Homo sapiens: one gene and its partners. The protein of the gene in region 2 purifies or fractionates together with the protein of the main gene of each other region. This does not show direct contact. Each region holds a gene or a part of one and is shown on either strand. Other genes may lie near its edges. The genes, in order: MTCL2, ZNF689, ANKS3 and ZBTB40.

Region 1 (4,985 bases), on a different chromosome or scaffold from region 2:
CCAGAGCGACAGCCAGGGAGGCTGCGTACTCAGCCTCGGGGAGAAATCCCCGTGGGACCTGAGCCCCAAGACCTACGGACCACTCAGCCTTACCATCGTACCGTCCAGGATTGTCCTTGCCATCTTTGTTGTCTCAGCCAGACCTTGGTTTTCAGTAAAGCCCCAGTTTCTACTTCCTGCATGCCACTGTGCAAGGCCACTCATCACTGTTCCTGCAGAAGCCTCTGGACGTGGGGCTGGATGGGGTTGAAAATGTTACATGTAAATATTGGTTTGGTTCGGTTTTTAGCATTTTACTTGGTAACTGGTTGTTTTCTTTTTTGGGGTGGGGGGATTGGTTTGTAAAAATTCTCTACTCTTTTGGAATGTGATTTCTAAGTTTGTTGGTTTCTTCAAATGCCTTTTAAGTCTTGGTAACATTCCCAAAGCAGAAAACTGCCTGACCCACAGTGGGGATTCCCTGGAGAATTGGGGTCCCAAGAAGGAATGCTGCCCTTCTCGAACCCGTTCTCCCCCTTCCTCCTGCCTCTCTGCCTTTTACTGCTATTCCCTTCTTCTCCTCCTTTATCCTTCTTTCTGTTTTCCCCATCTCCACTCTCTCTTCAACCAAAGTCCCAAGGAACCCTCGGGGCTCAATCCCCCATAGACCACTTGGCTTGGGTCCATGGGGTTGGCATCAGTTGGTTGGCGGAAATGGGGGACCAGTTGGCATGATGGCCCTAAACTGGGAAACCTCATGTTTCTTATGTCTCACCTCTTTCCAGAGCCAAATCAGCCCCTTTTGGAATGATGACTTCATTGGAATGCAAATCAAGTCATTTTGGTGCATCAGTGGCTCTTAGGCCTGCACACACGAGACATCAGAATCCAATCCTCTGACCCTGTGCCAGCCCTTTCCCCCAGTTTATTTCCCACCAAAGGCTGACCTCTAAGAGGTCTTGCTTTCTATGAACTCAAGATGGGTCCCACCTCTAGGTGTCCCCAGGTGCACTCTTCTACCGGTTGGCTTCCGATGTGACAAGGCCAAGGGCCCAAAGACTTGACCCTCTTACACCCTTGCTGACATGGTTCCATCATGTCCACCCGCATGCACTTTTATGGTTTCATCACCCAGCCTCTTCTCCTCTGGCCCACCCAGCGTCCAGGCTCTTTCTCCCTCTCCCCTCCTATCTAGAATGTCCCCTGCTTCTAGCCTCACCAGACCCCCCAAGCTCCCACTACTTCTTCCATAATAATAGTAATAACAATGGTTATCATCATCCCCTGCACATCCCGCCTAAAGCACTTTACTATATAGAAAACGTTTCCCCTGGCCGGGCATGGTGGCTCACGCCTGAAATCCCAGCTCTTTGGGAGGCTGAGGCGAGCGGATCAGTTGAGGTCAGGAGTTCAACGCCAGCCTGGCCAACGTGGTGAATCCCTGTCTGTACTAAAAGTACAAAAAATTAGCTGAGCATGGTGGTGCGTGCCTGTAATCCCAGCTACTCGGGAGGCTGAGGTGGGAGAATCGCTTGAGCCCAGGAGGCGGAGGTTGCAGGAGCAGAGATTGCGCCACTGCACTCCAGCCTGGATGACAGAGTGAGACCCAATCTCAAAAAAGAAATCGTTTCCCACCCCACATCTCCTTCAGACCTCTCAGGGACAACTCTGGGAGGCAGCCTTGGCAGGACATGGGTTAGTGCGCCCATTTTGCTGTGAGGAAACTGAGGTACAGGTCTCATCCCAGAGCATGAGAAGTCACTGAGTTTAGATGAGAACTTGGGTCCAACTCTGTCCTGTTTGCTGTGCAAATCCGCTGCCCTGCTGGGGGCTTTTGGTGGGTCCAGAATACCCAGAATATGCTGCTGGCCAACCCAGGCATAAAACAAGTCCATTCTAGATCACTGAGCCTTGTGTATTCCAGAGGGTGATCTGAGGTCCCCATTCAGCAGAATTCTCTGAGGGCATGTTCAGAATGTAGATTCCTGGGCCCCACCTTGAATTTGCATGTTTAACAAACTCTCCTGGGGTTGAGGGGTGGGTGCAGTGGTCACACCTGTAATCCCAGCACTTTGGGAGGCTGAGGCGGGTGGATCACTTGAGCTCAGGAGTTCGAGCCTGGCCAATATGGTGAAACCCTGTCTCTACTAAAAATGCAAAAATTAGCCAGGTGTGGTGGCACATGCCTGTAATCCCAGCTACTTGGGAGGCTGAGGCAGGAGAATCACTTGAACCTGGTGGGGAGCAGCGGTTGCAGTGAGCCGAGATTGTGCCATTGCGCTCTAGCCTGGGCAACGGAATGAGACTTGTCTCAAAAAAAATAAAAAATAAAACCAGCCCTCCCCGGGGGATCTTAGGCACTATTGGCCACACCATTGGTGTTCGTGGCCCTGATTATTAGGCTATCTTTCTTTTTTTAAGTTTTTTTAGATTTATTTTTTATTTTATTTATTTATTTATTTATTATTTATTATTATTATTTTTAGAGACAGGGGGTCTCCCTATGTTGCCCAGGCTGGTTTCAAACTCCTGGGCTCAAGTGATCTGCCCTCCTCAGCCTCCCAAAGTGCTGGGGTTACAGGCAGGCATCAGCCACCGTGCCAGGTCATCTTCCTTTTTCTTTTTTTTTTGGAGACAGAGTCTTGCTCTGTCATTCAGGCTGGAGTACAGTGGCGCCATTTCAGCTCACCGCAGCCTCCACCTCCCAGGTTCAAGCAGTTCTCCTGCCTCAACCTCCCGAGTAACTGGGATTACAGGTGTGTGCCACCACACCCGACTAATTTTTTTATTTTTAGTAGAGACGGGGTTTCACCATGTTGGCCAGGCTGGTCTTGAACTCCTGACCTCAGGTGATCCACCCACCTCGGCCTCCCAAAGTACTGGGATTATAGGCGTGAGCCACGGCATCCAGCCTCATCTTTCTTTTAACCAATAAACATGATGCTGTATCTTAAAAAGAGCACTGAGCAGGGACTTAAGGGATCGAGTCCTCAACCAAACTGATTTAATTACTCAGGATTTTCAAAAAGCATCAGAGGCTATTTACAATCTTAATCATAGGGGTTCAGTAAAATAAAAATAAGAAGTAAAAAAGCAAGAGAAATTATTCTGTAAATCTAACTGGTGTAATTCCCATAATCATGCAATTAAGTTTTACTCTTGAGTTTCCTGACAGCCATTGGTAAAAAGAGAAACACATCAGGATTTATAATTTTTATCATCCAATTATGGGAAGCAAGCATGTTGGCCCCAGGAGACGAACTCTTCTACTAATTTATAGCATGTATCCTTTCATCAAGGGCCACTGAGCCAGTTGGTGAGTCAACGGGTGAACCTAAGATGCAAGGATGTTTTCCAGGTGACTATTTAAAAAAATAAATAATCCACCAACGTGATTGACCTTGGCGAGATCATGTTTCTAGTCTATACCTCAGTTTCCCCATCTGTAAAGTGAGGATAATGTCCCACCCCATGTAACTGTGGTGAGGACCAACTGCAACACTGTGCCTGCGAGTCTCCTTGGAAAAGTGTAAGGTTCTACACAAATGGAAAGTGATCTGATCACACTCAGTGTCCCCAGCCCAGCCTTTCAGTGCCCTGGCCCTGGGGTGGGGGACAATACTCTCCTCACCCCCTTCACTAGTCTTCATGAATAGCAAGGAGGCCATAACATAATTTGGTCTAAACCCCTTCCTTTTTAAAAGAATGATGGCAAAATGTGCATAACATTAAATTTACCATTTTAAAGATTTCTAAGTGTCTCGAAGTACATTTGCAATGTGTAACTGCCACCTCCAGAACTTTTTCATCATCCTAAACTGAAACTCTGTACCCACTAAACAGTAACTCCCCACTCCCCCTGTCCCCAGTCCCTGGTAACCTCTATTCTACTTTTTTTTTTTCTCTGTGGATTGGCCTATTCTAGGTATCTCTTTTAAGTAGAATCATATAGTATTTGTCCTTTTGTGTCCAGCCCCCTCATTTTTTGAGATGAGGAATCAGGCCCAGAGAAGGCAGTGGCTCACCCAAGGTCACATCGCAAACCAGAGGCAGAGCCAAGACCAGAACCCAGGTTTCCTGACTCCTAACAGGTCTTGCATCCCCAGTAGTGAATGAGACACTGCTTTGACTTTCTGTAATCTTGGTTTAGCCCCTTCCTTTCTCTGGGCTCAGTCTGCTTCCCACCACTCACCCATTCTTTCTTTATCATCTCCCTCCAAAGCCTCTTGTCCTCCTGCCTCCTCTTCTCCTTGGCTGGTTCCTGCCAGCAAATGGAGTGGCCCTGGTCCATGCCAGGTTTTCCTCTTCTGGGTCCGGAGCTCACTATAGTATTCAGCCCTCAGTCCTCCCAGGATGTTCTTCCCAGCACTGCTGCCTCGTGCGGATTTTCCCGTAACCTCAGTAACTGGCTTCTTGTCCCCCTGCTTCCTACCAGGGAAGCCTTCCTGTCCGCGTCTGTGGTTTCCCAACTCTGATATTTGCTCTCAAATGTGGTGGTGTCCTGGTTCTGTGTTTATTTATTTTGTGTTTTCTCACACACACAAAAAAAAGCCTCTTCCTCCAATGCATCAGGAGGCACCAGCCCTGCCAGCCCTTCTCACTGGGCTCACCCTGCCCCAGCAACCCCCCGGTGCCACCCTTAAGCCACACTGTCTTCTCTGTAAGCAGCCTGCCAGCAGCAGCCCCAGCACTTTGCAATGGGCGTGTGTGTGGTGGTGGGTGGGGGGGGCTTGGATCCCTCCTTTTTCCTCCCCTGCCCTGCCCAGGCCCAGATGGCCTTGACTGTAAAGCAGGTGCTGCCTGACAGGTTCTTCTCTCCCTGTCTCTGGTCATTGATCCATCTCTTTGTCCATTCAGTATCCAACCATCCTCTCCATTCTCCTCTGGACCTCACCACTCTCAGAGCTGCTTGTCCTGGCAGAATCTACAGTTCACCCCAACTCTATGCCTTACCCCTCCCAACCCAACAGCATTTGCAGTTTGCAAAATATACAGACCCAAGTCCT
Region 2 (5,860 bases):
ACACATACATAGAAGTAGGGGCTAGGGCGGGCGTGGTGGCTCATGCCTGTAATCCCAGCACTTTGGGAGGCAGAGGTGGTTGGATCATGAGGTCAGGAGTTCGAGACCAGCCTGGCCAAGATGGTGAAATCCCGTCTCTACTAAAAATACAAAAATTAGCCGAGCAAAGTGGCGGGTGCCTGTAATCTCAGCTACTCGGGAGGCTGAGGCAGGAGAATCACTTGAACCCGGGAGGCCAAGGTTGCAGTGAGCCGAGTTTGCACCACTGCACTCTAGCCTGGGCAACAGAGCAAGACTCCGTCTAAAAAAAAAAAAAAAAAGGGCTGGGCACAGTGGCTCACGCCTGTAATCCCAGCACTTTGGGAGGCTGAGACGGGTGGATCACGAGGTCAGGAGATCAAGACCATCCTGGCTAACATGGTGAAACCCCGTCTCTACTAAAAATACAAAAAATTAGCTGGGCGTGGTGGCGGGCGCCTGTAGTCCCAGCTACCCGGGAGGCTGAGGCAGGAGAATGGCGTGAGCCCGGGAGGCGGAGCTTGCAGTGAGCCGAGATGGCGCCACTGCCCTCCAGCCTGGGTGACAGAGCGAGACTCCGTCTCAAAAAAAAAAAAAAAAAAAAAATGTGGAGGCTAATGGGGTGGGTGCTGGCTTGTTCCATCAGCAATTTTCAGTTCAGTGCCTTTCACATACATGCTTGTATCATTCTGTTATGATTCATTGTGAATTTATATGCTTTACTAGACTGTAAGCTCCATTCAAAGCATGGCCTATGACTTATTTATGTACGCTCTCCCAATTGCCTAGCACTATGCTTTGTACGTTGAACAAATGTCACGTGAAAATAATGTAGGGAGATTATGCAGAATATTGAACTTGAGAAGAAAACAAGAGCTCAGGTGGATTCCTGGTTTAGCAAGCAAATTAGGATACTGTGAAGGAAGGATGCCTATCAGTGGTATGAATAAAGGCTCTGTCTGCCCCAGGTTTAAATCTTTATTCCCCACTCCTTACTAGCAGTATGGCCCTGGAAACTCATGGAATCCCTCTGAGATCGTTTCTTCATTAGTAGAACCAGGATGATAACCATTGGTTCACAAAATGCTAGTAAAGAATTAATAACGGGCTGGGTGTGGTGGCTCACTCCTGTAATCCCAGCACTTTGGGAGACCGAGGTGGGCGGATTGCTTGAGCTCAGGAGTTCGAGACCAGCCTGGGAAACATGGCGAAACACCGTCTCTACCAAAAATACAAAAAATTAGCAGAGCACTGTGGGTGCATGCCTTCACTCCAGCCTGGGCAACGGAATGAGACCCAGTCTCAAAAAAAAAAAGCGAATAACTAATGGCTCCGGTGCTGTGGCTTATGCCAGTAATCCCAGCCCTTTGGGAGGACGAGGCAGGAGGATCACTTAGCCTAAGGGTTCGAGACCAGCCTGGGCAACACAGGGAAACCCTGACTCAACAAATAACATAAAAAATTAGCCAGGCGTGGTAGTGCACACCAGTAGTCCCAGTTACTCTGAAGGCTGAGGCAGGACGATTGCTTGAGCCCAGGAGTTAGAGGCTGCAGTGAGCTGAGATTGCACTACTGCATTCCATCCCGCCCGGGTAACAGAGTGAGACCCTGTCTCAAAAAAATAAAAATAAGGCCGGGCATAGTGGCTCACGCCTGTAATCCTAGCACTTCGTGGGGCCGAGGTGGGTGAATCACTTGAGGTCAGAAGTTCGAGACCAGCCTGGCTAACATGGTGAAACCCCATCTCTGCTAATAAATATGAATATTAGTCAGGAGTGGTGGCACGCGCCTGTAATCTCACTTACTCGGGAGGCTGAGGCAGGAGAATCGCTTGAACGTGGGAGGTGGAAGCTGCAGTGAGCCGAGATTTCGCCACTGCACTCCAGCCTGGGCGACAGAGCACGACTCTGTCTCAAAAATAAATAAATAAAATAAAAATAAAAAATAATAAAGATGAAATATGTAATATGCTGGGCATGGCGCCTGCCCCCAGGAAATGCTAACCATAATTCCCTCCCCTAAAGGGCAAACAAAGAAGATAACCATTCTCCAAAGTCAAGGATGCTCTGAGAACACCAGTAAAAGGAACTCAGGATAATCTCAGCTCTAACTCGGCCAGAGTGGCTCCATCGCTCAAATCGTTCCCTCCTTCAGTGATTGGCTGAGCCTGCCAGAGTCGAACAGCGGAAAGCAGCCCCGGGGCCTCTTGCTGCCCCCAGGTCGGTGCAAGTCGCTTCACAACTCCTTGTAGTCGCCTGATCCTAGCAGTCCAGCTTCCTGCCCTTATGCAGCTCTTGGCTTCGTTCAAACGGACCGCCTTTGCTAGCACCCAATCAGAACGCTCGATCTTCGGCTCTCGTCCAATGAACGCGCGTATTGGGGAGGGGAAAAAAGACGGCGTGAAGCCCAATCGCAGCGCCATTACACTTGAGGGCAAAGAGGTTAGGAAGCCGGCATGGCGCTCCGGTCAATAAAATCGATAGCTGGAAGCTGCCTGTGTTCCAGGCAAAGGCGGTGCGGTAGCAGCGCCGCCATTTTCCCCGAAGGCATCTTCCGGTGCCTTTCACCCAAGTTCGGGCAGGAGTTTCCTGAATAACAGCAAAAGGTTTCCGTTAGCCCCGCGGGCGACCAATTCCGATTCCCTCCGGGCCTCCCCGGCCACGCTCAGCCCTGGTCCGGCAGGGGCTCCTCGATCCCAGGGGCCGCCAGCGCCCGAGGGCCGAGGCCTGGACACGGAAGGCCGTGGCGCCGGCTTCTCGGGTCCCATGGCGCCACCTTCGGCTCCGCTCCCTGCGCAGGGACCAGGAAAGGCCAGACCCAGTCGGAAAAGGGGCAGGAGGCCGAGGGCTCTGAAGTTCGTGGACGTGGCCGTGTACTTCTCCCCGGAGGAGTGGGGCTGCCTGCGGCCCGCGCAGAGGGCCCTGTACCGGGACGTGATGCGGGAGACCTACGGTCACCTGGGCGCGCTCGGTGAGGCCGGCCCCATCCGCTGCCGCGGGGCGCGAAGGGATGCAGGAGCCGGAGAGGGTGTAGGCAGGGAGGCCACGGTCCTGGCAGGCGACCAGGTTGTCAGGGGAGGTGGGCAGGGGCTTAGCAGGAGGTGCCGTCGGGGAGATACTACTCGGCGTGATCTAGGAGCTGGCCTTCTGATTTGTTCTCTTTCCCCAGGGTGCGCAGGTCCCAAACCAGCCCTCATCTCCTGGTTGGAACGAAACACCGATGACTGGGAACCGGCTGCTCTAGATCCGCAGGAGTACCCGAGAGGGCTAACAGTCCAGAGAAGTGAGTGCTAAATAACCACGCAGAGCCTGCAGCCCTCCTATAACGTTCTACCTCTAACGGCTCTGTCCAGAGTTTTGGTTGGGCTAGGGGTGGGTGCCGCGTATTTAGTATATTCATCTTCCCAGCCTCTTGTGTCTGGTGGTGTGGGGCCGGTCCACCACACAGAGATTCCTATGTCAGTCTGCAAGCTGCAGTTTTCCACTGTGTGAATGAATCAGTGGGCTTATTCTTCGTCTTTTTTTTTTTTTTTTTTTTTTGTAGAAACATTGTCTTGCTCAGTTCGGTCTTGAACTTCTGGCCTCAAGCGATCCTCCTGCCTTGGCCTCCCAAAATGCAGGGGTTACTGGCGTGAGCCATTGCAGCCAGCCAGAATCAGTGAGCTTTTAACAGGTGCTACCCTCTGCCTCCTTTCCAGGATCTCTGCCTCTAGCCACCTTTGAGTTGGACCAAAGAGATCCTAAACTTCTCAGAGTTTTCTGGGTTTTGGTTGAAGGGAGCTCATGGGGAACAGCTGCCTGGGATGCAGGGGCCTCTTTCTGCTCTTACGGCAGGATGACCCTTATCAGCGAAGGACATACTGCAATCTCCTCAGAATCCAACAAGGCTCTGCTTAACCCCATTCAGGTAGAAGGGTCCCAGATCCACCCATAGTAGAAGATGGAGCTGTCTGGGCTGGAATTTCAGAGCCAGATTCTTCAAGACCAGGGATAGCTGTCCAAGATTCAGATCTGACCATGATATTTCCTTGCTTAAAACTTTTCAGTTAATTTTTGCCAAGGTTGTTAAATGGCCATTGGTTATATCTAAATCACTTGGGGAACTTGGTAAAAACGCAGGTTCCAGGACCCCATCCCAGAGCTATTCATTCACTCGTGTGAATGTTTAGGAACTTCCATTTTTTAAATAGCCTCAGCTGATTCAGATGTGCATCTAGGTTTGAAAACCGGCCGGCTGGTGGCTCATGCCTGTAATCCCAGCACTTTGGGAGGCCGAGGTGGGTAGATCACTTGAGGTCCGGAGTTCAAGACCAGCCTGACCAACATCGTGAAACCCCGTCTCTACTAAAAAAATACAAAAATTAGCCGGGCACTATGGTGGGCGCCTGTAATTCCAGCTACTCAGGAGGCTGAGGCAGGGAGAATTGCTTGATCCTGGGAGGTGGAAGTTACAGTGAGCCGAGATCATGCCAGTGTACTCCAGCCTGGGTGCCACAGTGAGACTCCATCTTGGGGGAAAAAAAAAAAGAAAAGAAAACCATTGGGTAAAATACAGTCCAAGGTCTTTAACAATGCTAACAGCAGTGGTTCTCAAAGCGTGGTCTCAGACCAGAAGCAGCATTATTTGGAAACTTGTTAGAAATGCACATTCTTGGACCCTACCCCAGACCTGCTGAATCCAAAGCGGGCACTAGGGCCTGGCATTCTGTTTCAGTAAATCCTCCCAATGATTCTGATCACAGTGGAGTTTGAGAACCATTGGCTTAGAGGGCCTTTTGACCCAGTCACTGCTAGCTCATACCTCATAGGTTTCCATATCTTGCCTTACACTCTTTTGTGTGTGTGTGAGACGGAGTCTTGCTCTGTTGCCCAGGCAGGAGTGCAGTGGCACGATCTCAGCTCACTGTAACCTCTTGCTCCCGGTTTCAAGCAATTCTCCTGTCTCAGCCTCTGGAGTAGGTGGGACTACAGGTGCCCACGATCACACCCGGCTAATTTTTAGTAGAGACAGGGTTTCTCCATATTGGTCAAGCTGGTCTCGAACTCCTGACCTCAGGTGATCCGCCTGCCTTGGCCTTCCAAAGTGCTGGGATTGCAGGTGTAAGCCACCGCGCCCAGCCTGTCTTGCTTTTACACTTTGTGTCTAAGAAGATCTTAGGGCCTGTGCACACTGTACACTGAGCCTTGGGACTTATGTTTCTTTTCTTTTTTTTTTTTGAGACGGAGTTTTGCTCTTCCACCCAGGCTGGAGTGTAGTAGTGCAATCTTGGCTCACTGCAACCTTTGCCTTCCGGTTTCAAGTAATCATCTTGACTCAGTTTCCCAAGTAGCTGGGATTACAGGCGCCCGCCAGCATGCACGGCTAATTTTTGTATTTTTAGTAGAGACGGGGTTTCACCATGTTGGCCAGGCTGGTCTCGAACTCCTGACCTCACAGTCCGCCCACCTTGGCCTCCCAAAGTGCTGGGATTATAGGAATGAGCCACTGCGCTTGGCTGGGACTTACGTTTCTAACACTGCATAATTTTAATTCTTTTTTTTTTTTTTTTTTTTTTTTTTGAGATGGAGTCTCACTCTGTCATGCAGGCTGGAGTGCAATGGCGTGATCTTGGCTCACTGCAACCTCCGCCTCCCAGGATCAAGTGATTCTCCCACCTCAGCCTCTGGGTAGCTGGGATTATAGGCACCTGCTATTGTGCCCAGCTAATTTTTATATTTTTGTAGAGACGGGGTTTCACCATGTTGGCCAGGCTGGTCTTGAACTCCTGACCTCAGGTGATCCGCCTGCCTCAGCCTCCTAAAGTGCTAGGATTACAGACATGAGCCACCACGCCCAGCCACAT
Region 3 (5,189 bases), about 26 Mb from region 2:
ACACTTGACCTCAGAGCTGCCTGCAGGAGTCTGACAAGATGTGGTTGAAGCAGAGACAGGAACTACACACAGTGTGTGCTTGGTGATGGTTACAGCTGCCACCATCCTCCTCCTTTCTGTGGTCCCTCTGACCACACATTACCTTAGGGATCAGAGGTGTGACTCACAGCTCAGCTGTCTCACCTGTGTCTGCTGAGTTCTCCTACCCTGTGTGGGCAGAAGAGGCACGGAGAGGAGAGGCAGAGGGAAGCTCTGGTTGGTTATTTGGTTTGTTTGTTCGAGACGGAGTCTCGCACTGTCATCTGGGCTGGAGTGCAGTGGCGCGATCTCGGCTCACTGCAACCTCCTCCTCCTGGGTTCAAGCGATTCTCCTGCCTCAGCCTCCCAAGTAGCTGGGATTACAGGCACCCGCCACCATGCCCATCTAATTTTTTGTATTTTTAGTAGAGACGGGATTTCACTATGTTGGCCAGGCTGGTCTCAAATTCCTGACATCGTGATCCGCCCGCCTCGACCTCCCAAAGTGCTGGGATTACAGGCGTGAGCCACCACACCTGGCCTGGTGCCATGCCCGGCCTGGCTGGTTATTTGTTAAAGCACTGGCTTTGCTGTTCAGTAGAGCCTTGGATTTGCCGGCTTCTCCCTGCAGCCCCTGGCTCAGTGAGCAGGCACACGTCTCGGTCCCTTCAACATACGTTGAGTGGAGTCTGGTCAGGGTAGTGTCCTAAGTATGTTTCTTTCAGAAAATAGCTTGAAGAAAATGTCAGAGTAACATTTGTTTGTCCATTAAAAGCAATAAACTCTCAAAAGTAGGATTTCTGGAGTTGAAAAGTAAATGAAATGAAAATATCACTAGACGAGCTCACAGCAGAATTGAGCAGGCAGAAGAGTCAGACAACTTGTGAACACAGGTCACCTGAGATCATCTCGCTTGAGGAACAGAAAGAATGAGTAAAAAAAATTAACAGAAATCTGTGATCCCCTCAAGCACACCGACACCACCCCATACAGTGGCATTCCAGAAGGAGAGCAGAAACGATGGGTGAGAAACAGCCTGACCATCTCAGTGGATCAGAAACACGGATCTTACATCCAGGGAGCTCGGTGAACTCCAGACAGGTGAACTCGGAGAAGAGCTGCGCTTAGACAAGTGGAAATCAGAACATCCGACACTGAGACTCTAGAATTAGAGGGCAGCGCTCTCCGCCTACAAAGCATTGTCGAGATCAGCAGCTCCATGGTCCCTTCACAGAACTGAGCATGTGTGGGAGGAGGAGGCCAGTTTCTGGTGATGAACATACATTGTCCCCACGTGGCCGACCATAGTGTGAGGACTCACCTGCCTGCAACATCCTGCCCTGCCTGAGCCACCAGAGTAGGAGGGGACAGCCTGGGCGCCACACACAAGGCACTGTCTTGGTTCTGAGCCTGGGGAAGTGGTGGGGCTCCGAGTGGAGGAAAACGTCTCTGCTTCGTCGTCAGCCACTACCTCCCCCAACCTGTCCCCTGTGCCTGCCAGGACCTTGCCGCACTGCTGGAGCAGATCGGGTGTCTGAAGTACCTGCAGGTGTTTGAGGAGCAGGACGTGGACCTCCGCATCTTTCTGACCCTCACTGAGAGCGACCTGAAGGAAATTGGCATCACGTGCGTCCAGAAGGGCCGCTCTGGCCCTCAGCCCGGGGTTGGGGCAAACTCCCACTCATGTAAGCGCTCTTGGGACGCTGAGGCATATCCTGGTCACATTCCCCCCGCAGGCTGTTTGGGCCCAAGAGGAAGATGACGTCCGCCATTGCCCGCTGGCACAGCAGTGCCCGCCCACCCGGGGATGCCCTGGAGCTGGCCTACGCCGACCGGCTGGAGGCTGAGATGCAGGAGCTCGCCATCCAGCTGCACAAGGTGAGTGGCTGGGTGGGGGATGGGGGGGCAGGGTGACACCCGTGAGTTGGCTCCATCTCTGACAGAAAAGGTGGGTGCTGTGTGGAGGGGTCAGGTGGATGCAGTGGGGAGAGGGCCCCACACACAGGACAGGGCCGTGGCCAAGGGTCTGGCTTGACCGGCCACCTCCCAGCCTCCCCGCGCCCCCCACCCCCCTGCAGCGCTGCGAGGAGGTAGAGGCCACGCGGGGCCAGGTGTGTCAGGAGCAGGAGCTGCGCGCCGTGGTGGAGAGCTGCCTGCTGGAGCAGGACCGCGCCCGCGAGGACCTCCAGGCCCGGCTGCGGGAGACGTGGGCCCTGGCCCGGGATGCTGCCCTCGTCCTGGACCAGCTGCGGTGAGTGGCTCTGAGCTGCCCTGGGCTGGGTCTCCAGTGGTCAGCCACCTGGCCCCTGGGCCCCCACACATCCTTTCCTCCTGATTTTGTAACTGAGGGGTGGATTTCAGGGTCTGGAGCCACCCCACCCCCATTTCATCAGGCCCTTCCTTCCTGCAGGCAGACCCAGGCAGGAGTTGGGTCCGGGAATCTGCACCGGTCGCCCTCCTGCTCTTTAGTGCAGCCTCATGGGGCACTGGCCCAGCCCATGAGGGCCAGCTGCAAGGACAGGGCTGAGCCCCTCCCTCCCCTAGAAGGTCTGAGGTGGGGGCTCTGCAGCGGCCAGGCCTCTGCTCTCACCAATATTTGTTTCTGTGTCTGGCAGAGCCTGTCAAGCTGAGCTGTCATCTCGAGTGAGGCAGGACCAGCCCCCTGGTGCAGCCACTCTGGGCCTAGCCGTCCCCCCAGCTGGTAAGAGCAGTGGCCTGACTCCGCACTGGGCAGAGGGGAAGGTGGGGGAGCCCTGAAGCCAGGTTTGACCCAGTGGGCTTGGCCTGGTTCTCCGGCCGGCAGCCACTCTCCCAGGTCCCTGTGTGCACATGATCCCAGAGTCCAAGGAAAAGAGGGGGCCCTGGGGACCCAAGCCCACTTCCTCACCTGTGACAGGAAAACTGCCTATCCCCCAGGGGTAGGAGGTACTCGAGAAAGGCCCTGTGCCTTGGCTGGCTGTGCTGTGCTGAGACCGCCAGTGACTTCTGTAGCCTCCAGCCAGGGCCCAGACCCGGGTCCCCACCGGCAGAGCTTTGCCTTCTCTCGGGCTGACCCGGGCCTCGTAGTGTTTGCTCAGCCTGTGGGAGGAAGGGCACAACAGGGCTTCCCTGCCTCGGCCTTGGGAGGTTGCTTAGACACTGTCAGGCGGGTAGGGAGGTTCTGATCCAAGCAGGTTCTCCTGGTTGCATGGGCTCAGAATAAAGCAGGGCCTGTGGGGACGCAGACCCCCAGCTAACTCGGTCCCTGCACCTGCACCACAGACTCCAAGGGCTGGCAAGCGTCCCTGCAGGCCATGAGCCTCCCCGAGCTCTCGGGAGCCCTGGAGGACCGTGTCCGTGAGATGGGTGAGTCTCCGGGGACCAGACGACTGAGCGCTCCTTTTGTTTCCGAGGGAGGCAAAGGGACCCCTTTCCAGGGAAAGCGGGTTTGTGTCTCTCTACCCCAAGGCTGACCTCGGGGCTGGGGCCATAACGGGTGAGGGGCAGGTCACATCCTGCAGCTGAGACCCCGGGGCAGCACCACCCAGCCCTCCTGAGCCTGGCCGGGAGAGGCTCAAGGTCATCATTCCTCAGGGCAAGCACTGTGCTTAGTGACCCAGAGCCTGGAGAAGCTGCAGGTGCTGAACGGGAAGAAGTGGCGGGAGACCTAGCCTGCGGGCCGGTGAGTGTCTGCCAGCCTGGATCCCGCGTGGTGGGAGCAGCAGGGCCTGTCTGGGCGGCTGCAGGTGTGGGTATGCACCCACCTGTCCCCCTCCCTTCTCACCGGGGCTTTTTCTTTCAGAATCTGACGTTGGGTGATTGGTCCACCCTGAAGCTGTGTGCCAGGGAGTGAGGAGGACAGTGAGCAGGTAGCTGCCATGTGCAGCCCAGGCCCAGTGGGGGCCAGAGGATCAGGCCCCGGGAGCAGCCGGCAGACAGAGGCAAGACGGGGGCTGCGGCCCTGGCTCGGCAGCTCGGGCCAGCACTGAGGCGGGACGAGGGCCTCACCCAGAACCTCGTGGTGAGGCCCAGAGTTCATGGGCTGCCCTGGCCCATACCAGGCAGGGCCCTGGGGGGAAAGTGTATCCATATACACGCACAGGTGCCAACTGAGGTGGGACCTTAGGAATGAGGACTGGGGCACCTGGAAAATGCCATTTTTTGGAAAATAAAATTTAAGAACAGCTAGTGAAGGGCTCAGTTCTGGTCACATGACATGAGGCACTGGCCAATGCAGCAACCCTGACTGCCCTGTCCTCTGCTGTTCAGGGGTGTGTCTTTTGCTCCTGGAGCCCAGACAACTCAAGATAAGGCTTTGAGAGCCAAGAACATCCCCAGCCCGCCGTAGCACAGGGCCTCCCCCGGGACATGCTGCTCTCACACCGAGCTCTGAGATGGAGCTGGGCACACTGCCTCCCTCACCGGGCCAGGCATGGGCTGTGCAAATTTTCTGACGATGCCGCTGGAGTCTTTCCAGATGTGGGGCTGTAGGAGACCACGAGGGATGGCTCTGCTGCTGTCCTTCTGCACAGTAAGCCTGCACTTCTACACCATCCCCTGGAGCTGCTTGCAGACAGTGGGGAATGGTGGGTTTGCAAAGCAAAGCAGGTCAGCCCAGGTGCAGCCAGGGCCACCAGGATCAGGAAGGGGAGCCTGCCCTGAAGGTCTCGGCCCAGACGCCCCAACCTGGCTGATGGGCACAGCATTCATGCTGGGAGTGCCCCCAGTAAACACTGGGGAACAAACGTGCCCCTGGCTGGGGCAGCTCCTCCCTCCCCCACCTAGGGCAGGGGGCCTGAGCTGGTTCCATCCAGAACCAAAACAAACACACAGGGCAGCTGAGAAACACACAGAGCAGCTGCGGAGCGACTTTATTGTCTTCTCCTTCGACAGCTTCGTTGTACATAGCTGGGCCCCCGAGGCCCTGACTGTCCCTGGGAACCAAGCCACGTGGGGTGAAGCTACTTTGAAACCTCACCCACAGTTCACACGTGGTGAAAGAGAAAATCTAGCAAAGTAAATCCAACAACAACCCAAATTAACAGTATTATTAACTTCCTACCCCAAGCTGGCTCTCCCCCAGGCCCTGAACTGGCTCAGGAAGGAGGCAGGAATGAGCTGACCGAGACAAGGCATCCTCCACCCACACATCCCATCTTCTGAGTGGTCCCAGAGCTGTGCGCCACCCCTGT
Region 4 (5,189 bases), on a different chromosome or scaffold from region 2:
CAGGAGAGTTTTGGATATGTTACGTTTCAGAAACCAGGTTCCAGTTGGAGATGTTGAATAGGTAGTTGGAGGTCTACATCAGGAGTTCAGAGGAACAGGCTGAGCCAGAGACATAAATCTGAAAGCTGTCAGCATTTAGATGATATTTCAAAGCTATGGAATCAGAAGAGAGGGAAGGTAAGAGGCGGGATGACTGGGTCCTCGAGCACTCCAAGCTTTAAAGGCTGCGCTGATGCAGAGGACTCAACCAAGGAGACTGGGAAGGCATGGCTAGTGAGTGAGAAGGAGAACCAAGTGAAAAATGTATTTTCAGAGGAAGAGAATGATGACCTCCGTCCCTTGTTAGGGCTAGACTGAATAAGCCAAGGACATTGTATTGTAAGTCTCCGTCTACATATTTATCTCCTCTAGGTGGCTGAGAGCTTTTTGGGAGCAGGAATGGTAGTGTAGTTAGAGCTTCGAAGTCAGTGAGATGGCTGTTTTTCCTTAGGGTGATTCTCTTGGTCCTTCAAAGCTCCAATCTCATCTGTAAAATGGGGAGGAAATAATATCTTTTCCACTGAATCGTTGTGAGAATCAAATGAGACCGTCCATACAAAGCATTATGCACAGTCTCTTTCATATATTTAAACACATAATGATAATGATCATTACTGATTTAGTATACCTGGCATACTGTCCCTTCCTATTAAGCAATATTTGTTGGATGAATGAGTGAAATGCCTTTCTGTTCATTTAGCGTTTCATTCAAGGCCTTTCCCTATGGTTTTTTGAAGTTTTAACCTGGTATTTTGTGGGTTTCTCTAGGGCCTGTCCTCCCAAAGCCAACTCTAAGGAGAGGAGAGGAAGAGCAGTTCTTGGGGCAGAGTTGACGCAATGGAGCTCCCCAACTACAGCCGGCAGCTGCTGCAGCAGCTGTACACTCTGTGCAAGGAGCAGCAGTTCTGTGATTGCACCATCTCCATTGGTACCATTTACTTCAGGGCTCACAAGCTTGTCCTGGCTGCTGCCAGCCTCCTGTTCAAAACCCTGCTGGATAACACAGATACCATCTCCATCGATGCATCTGTGGTGAGCCCCGAGGAGTTTGCGCTCTTGTTGGAAATGATGTACACGGGCAAACTACCTGTGGGCAAGCACAACTTCTCCAAAATCATCTCCTTAGCAGACAGTCTACAGATGTTTGATGTAGCTGTTAGCTGCAAAAATCTTCTGACCAGCCTTGTAAACTGCTCGGTTCAGGGTCAGGTGGTAAGGGATGTCTCTGCGCCATCCTCAGAGACATTCAGAAAGGAACCAGAGAAGCCTCAAGTAGAAATCCTTTCATCTGAAGGTGCTGGAGAGCCTCATTCTTCCCCAGAGCTTGCTGCCACTCCAGGGGGCCCTGTGAAAGCTGAGACTGAGGAAGCAGCCCATTCAGTTTCACAAGAGATGAGTGTGAATTCTCCCACAGCCCAGGAGAGCCAGAGGAATGCAGAAACCCCAGCGGAGACTCCTACTACAGCTGAAGCTTGTTCCCCCTCCCCTGCTGTGCAAACCTTTAGTGAGGCAAAGAAGACAAGCACAGAACCAGGTAACAGTCATTGTTTTATATTCCATCCTTCTGTTTTCAATGATCTTTATCAGTTTTAATGTTTGATTAATAAATTTATCAAAGACCACTGTTAGGTAGAAAACCAAAATTCAGTGCAGTACCGTACTGGGCCATTCTTTTAAAAGTGTCTGTGTTTTTGAACATTGAAAGTCCAAACATGAACTACAGAGCAGAAAAGCAGTATTGGAATAATGACGTACCATTTCGATAATTATCTGTTTCGTTTTGTTTTGTTTTGTTTTCTCTCGAGACGGAGTCTTGTTCTGTTGCCCAGGCTGAAGTGCAATGGCATGATCTCAGCTCACTGCAACCTCCGCCTCCTGGGTTCAAGCAATTCTCCTGCCTCAGCCTCCTGAGTAGCTGGGATTACAGGCATGTGCCACCACGCCCAGCTAATTTTTTGTATTTTTAGTGGAGATGGGATTTCACCATGTTGGCCAGGCTGGTCTCGAATTCCTGACCTCATGATCCACCCGCCTCAGCCTCCCAAAGTGCTGGGATTACAGGCGTGAGCCACCGTGCCCTGCTGATTATCTGCTATTTTAACCAGGCTGAGGACAGCACAAAGGAGGAAGCTGTGAGAGATACTGTTGTCTGTTATTCATAACTGATGTGCTAGACAGAGATCAGTTAAGTGCAGTATATGACCTGAAGGTGCTCAGACAGCTTAAACTTGTAAAAATTTATTTCAAGTAATGAATTTCTGATTTGTTTTATTTTGTTCTACATTTAGGATGTGAAAGGAAACACTACCAGCTGAATTTTCTTCTAGAAAATGAAGGTGTCTTCTCAGATGCACTCATGGTTACCCAGGATGTTTTAAAAAAACTAGAAATGTGTTCAGAAATTAAAGGTCCACAGAAGGAGGTAGGCACCTCTGACTTTTGTACTTGTTTGCTAGTTTAGTGTTCTCAGGATACCTTACTAACTTTTTATATGGGGCAGAAATAGCCCAGGGTTTCAATGTTTTGAAACTTTAATTTTTTTTTTTTTTTGGACATTTATTCCCTAAAGGGCAGTCTTGCAAAAGTACTTAGGCAGGATACTTTCAAAATGACATTACATCTTGATCACCAGGAGAATCCTAGCTTCTAACCAGTTTTGATCCAGAATACTTAACTGATCATACCATTTACTCCTGATTAATCACAGATAAGATTAAGAAGGTAGCCATGTATAACCTCAAACCTGAGACTTAAACCATTAAAATTAAAACAAAACAACAGATACTCAAAACATGAACAAAAAGGACTTTATATAAACTTATAAATTATTGGTAAAATGCATCTAATATTTAGGAATAACAGTGGCCATTTTCAGACATAAAAACAGTAATAGTAAACATTCAACGAACACTTCCTGTATTAAGCTTGGCATATGTGTTACCGCATTTAATTTTCACAAAAATCATCAGTGTGAGTATTATTGTTAAGTCCTGTTTTATGCATGAGAAAACTGTCTCAAAGAGGTGGTGTAATTTGGCGAAGGTCACAGAGCTCATATGACCCTGAGCCAGAATTGAAACCTCAGCATTCTAACTTTAGAGCTGCTCCCTTACACACTGAGTTTATACTGCCTCCCAACAGGGTAAAAGTGATGCATATATATATAAGTGCTTAGGAATCGCCTGACAGGAAACTGCCAAATGGCTATCATGCTTTCTTAGCTGACCTCTTTTTTTAAGTAACTCAGTTGAGACGCATTTCCACCTGTGTGATCTCTCAATACTTGATTCTTCACACCTGACCCTGCAGGATTCGACTCCACAACCAATTTAGAATTCCATTTATTTCCCTTTTCTCCCAGCCCTGCTTCCCCTTTCTGAGAGGCTGCTGGCAGAGTGAGAGGGCGCTGCCCCGGCAGGCTTGCTCCTCTGATTGGTAGGGGGTAGTGTGGGCCGATCCTCCCATGTTGCTATAGGCAATTTTGTATTAGTCCAAGTAATACATGCCTTCTAATAATTAAATGTTTTCCTGATTCATAGCAACTTTTTTAAAAAACAAATTCAAGGTCTAGTATTTATTTTAGCTGTGTTAACTGACAGTCGACTATACATTGTTTTCTTGGGAGACAAGCTATTTACAAGGCTAGGCTAACCCTGATGACTCTCTTTGGGAGGTTTCAAGTCATAAATCCTTGGTACTCTTTGTACTGATTATGCTGAAGGACATTATGGTTTTATATTTTTGCACTTGCGTGTTCTCTTAACTGTTCAATCCATCATTTTTGTCATTAGTTTGTTACCTTGATAGCTTCTAAACACACCTCTTCATTTTCTCTTAAAGCTTCCTCTCCACTTAACTTTGGCTACAGAGGAGTAACGTTATTCCTTAGATCAGCAATACTCAAGTTATTAGTGTCACCTTTATACTTAGTTGAACTGTGTCTTATGCATTTTTTTTAACATTGGTACCTAAAAGTATGTGGCATGTAACAGGTGATGAAGAAATGTCTGTTATACATGCATTCGTTCAACATTTCTTTTTTTCCATTTCTTGTTCTAATCTTTTGATGGCAATATCATTAATATACTTCAAAAGAACACTGATTTGCTGTTGGTGATCATTATAGGCTTATGTTATTTCTTCCTCAGTTTTAGAGGTCAGAGTAGGAGCTCTGCAAATCACTTGGTGGCTGTTTTTAAAGCCAATTCTGTTACAGTCCATAACCTTTGAACTTCAGAAAGAAAAAGGGAACAGATACTTTAAGAATATAAGATTAAATAGAGAGTTAGGGAGATGCTGCTTTGTACTTCGGCCTCTACTTCTCTCTCTCTCTGTCTCTCTCTCATACTTTGTTTCAGACAGCCTTGTTGAGCTATGACTGACATGCAGTAACCTGTAGCTAGGTATGGTGTACAGTGTGATTAGTTTTGGTATATGCCCTGAAACCATCACCACAGTTAAGATGGTAAACATCTCCATCACCCCCAAAAGTTTCTTCTTGTCCCTGTGTACTACCCCTCTCTCCTGCCCCTTCCACTTACCCATGCCCTGGGTAACCACTGGTCTGCTTTCGGTCACTGTACGTAAGTTTGTATTTTCTAGAGTATTGTATAAATGGAGTCATATGGTGTGTATTTTTTGTCTGGCTTTCATTGAGCGTAAGTATCTTGAGATTCACCCATGTTTTTTTTTTTTTTTCCTTTTTTCTTTTTCTGTGAATTCTACAGAGGTACGCCCCTAGTGTTGTGTGTTCATTCCTTCTTATTGCTGAGTTGTATGCATTGTGTGGATATACAATTCATTTATCCACCTCTACTATTTACTAGCATTGTGACTTTAGGCAGCTTCATCTTTATAAGCCTCAGTGTCCTCGTTTGTAAAAAGGGGATACTATCACCTACATCATGGGGTCATTGTGAATTAAGATTATTTATATAAAACTCATAGTAAAATGCCAGGCACTCAGTAGGAGGTCAGTAGGTAACAACTGCTATTGTTTGTTTTTACATTAACTCAGTATTTTTAGACCTAACAGACCTTGAAACCCCCTTTTCACTGAATGTCTTATAATATCCTGGTGCCATGGCCATTTACTCTGACACGAGATGGTTTGCTGTTACTTTAAGCTTAATTTGTAAGGCATGCTTTCA

What was found.
Region 1: the proteins of ZNF689 (region 2) and MTCL2 purify together in Homo sapiens (affinity purification with mass spectrometry; one large-scale study listed by BioGRID and IntAct). This does not show direct contact.
Region 3: the proteins of ZNF689 (region 2) and ANKS3 purify together in Homo sapiens (affinity purification with mass spectrometry; one large-scale study listed by BioGRID and IntAct). This does not show direct contact.
Region 4: the proteins of ZNF689 (region 2) and ZBTB40 purify together in Homo sapiens (co-immunoprecipitation; 2 studies listed by BioGRID and IntAct, with this or other methods). This does not show direct contact.

The regions. Positions count from the first base shown.
Region 1 is NC_000020.11:36,779,161-36,784,145, reverse strand, and holds part of MTCL2 (microtubule cross-linking factor 2), read left to right. Parts: 3' UTR 1-4,985. UniProt on the Homo sapiens protein: Microtubule-associated factor that enables integration of the centrosomal and Golgi-associated microtubules on the Golgi membrane, supporting directional migration. Preferentially acts on the perinuclear microtubules accumulated around the Golgi.
Region 2 is NC_000016.10:30,606,965-30,612,824, reverse strand, and holds the start of ZNF689 (zinc finger protein 689), read left to right. Parts: upstream 1-2,435; 5' UTR 2,436-2,783; coding exon 2,784-2,988; intron 2,989-2,996; exon of another isoform or gene 2,997-3,083; intron 3,084-3,186; coding exon 3,187-3,300; intron 3,301-5,860. UniProt on the Homo sapiens protein: May be involved in transcriptional regulation.
Region 3 is NC_000016.10:4,695,507-4,700,695, reverse strand, and holds the end of ANKS3 (ankyrin repeat and SAM domain-containing protein 3), read left to right. Parts: intron 1-1,519; coding exon 1,520-1,644; intron 1,645-1,754; coding exon 1,755-1,896; intron 1,897-2,096; coding exon 2,097-2,269; intron 2,270-2,633; coding exon 2,634-2,719; intron 2,720-3,279; coding exon 3,280-3,363; intron 3,364-3,591; coding exon 3,592-3,668; 3' UTR 3,669-3,679; intron 3,680-3,799; 3' UTR 3,800-4,185; downstream 4,186-5,189. UniProt on the Homo sapiens protein: May be involved in vasopressin signaling in the kidney.
Region 4 is NC_000001.11:22,489,073-22,494,261, forward strand, and holds part of ZBTB40 (zinc finger and BTB domain-containing protein 40), read left to right. Parts: intron 1-807; 5' UTR 808-876; coding exon 877-1,573; intron 1,574-2,327; coding exon 2,328-2,461; intron 2,462-5,189. UniProt on the Homo sapiens protein: May be involved in transcriptional regulation.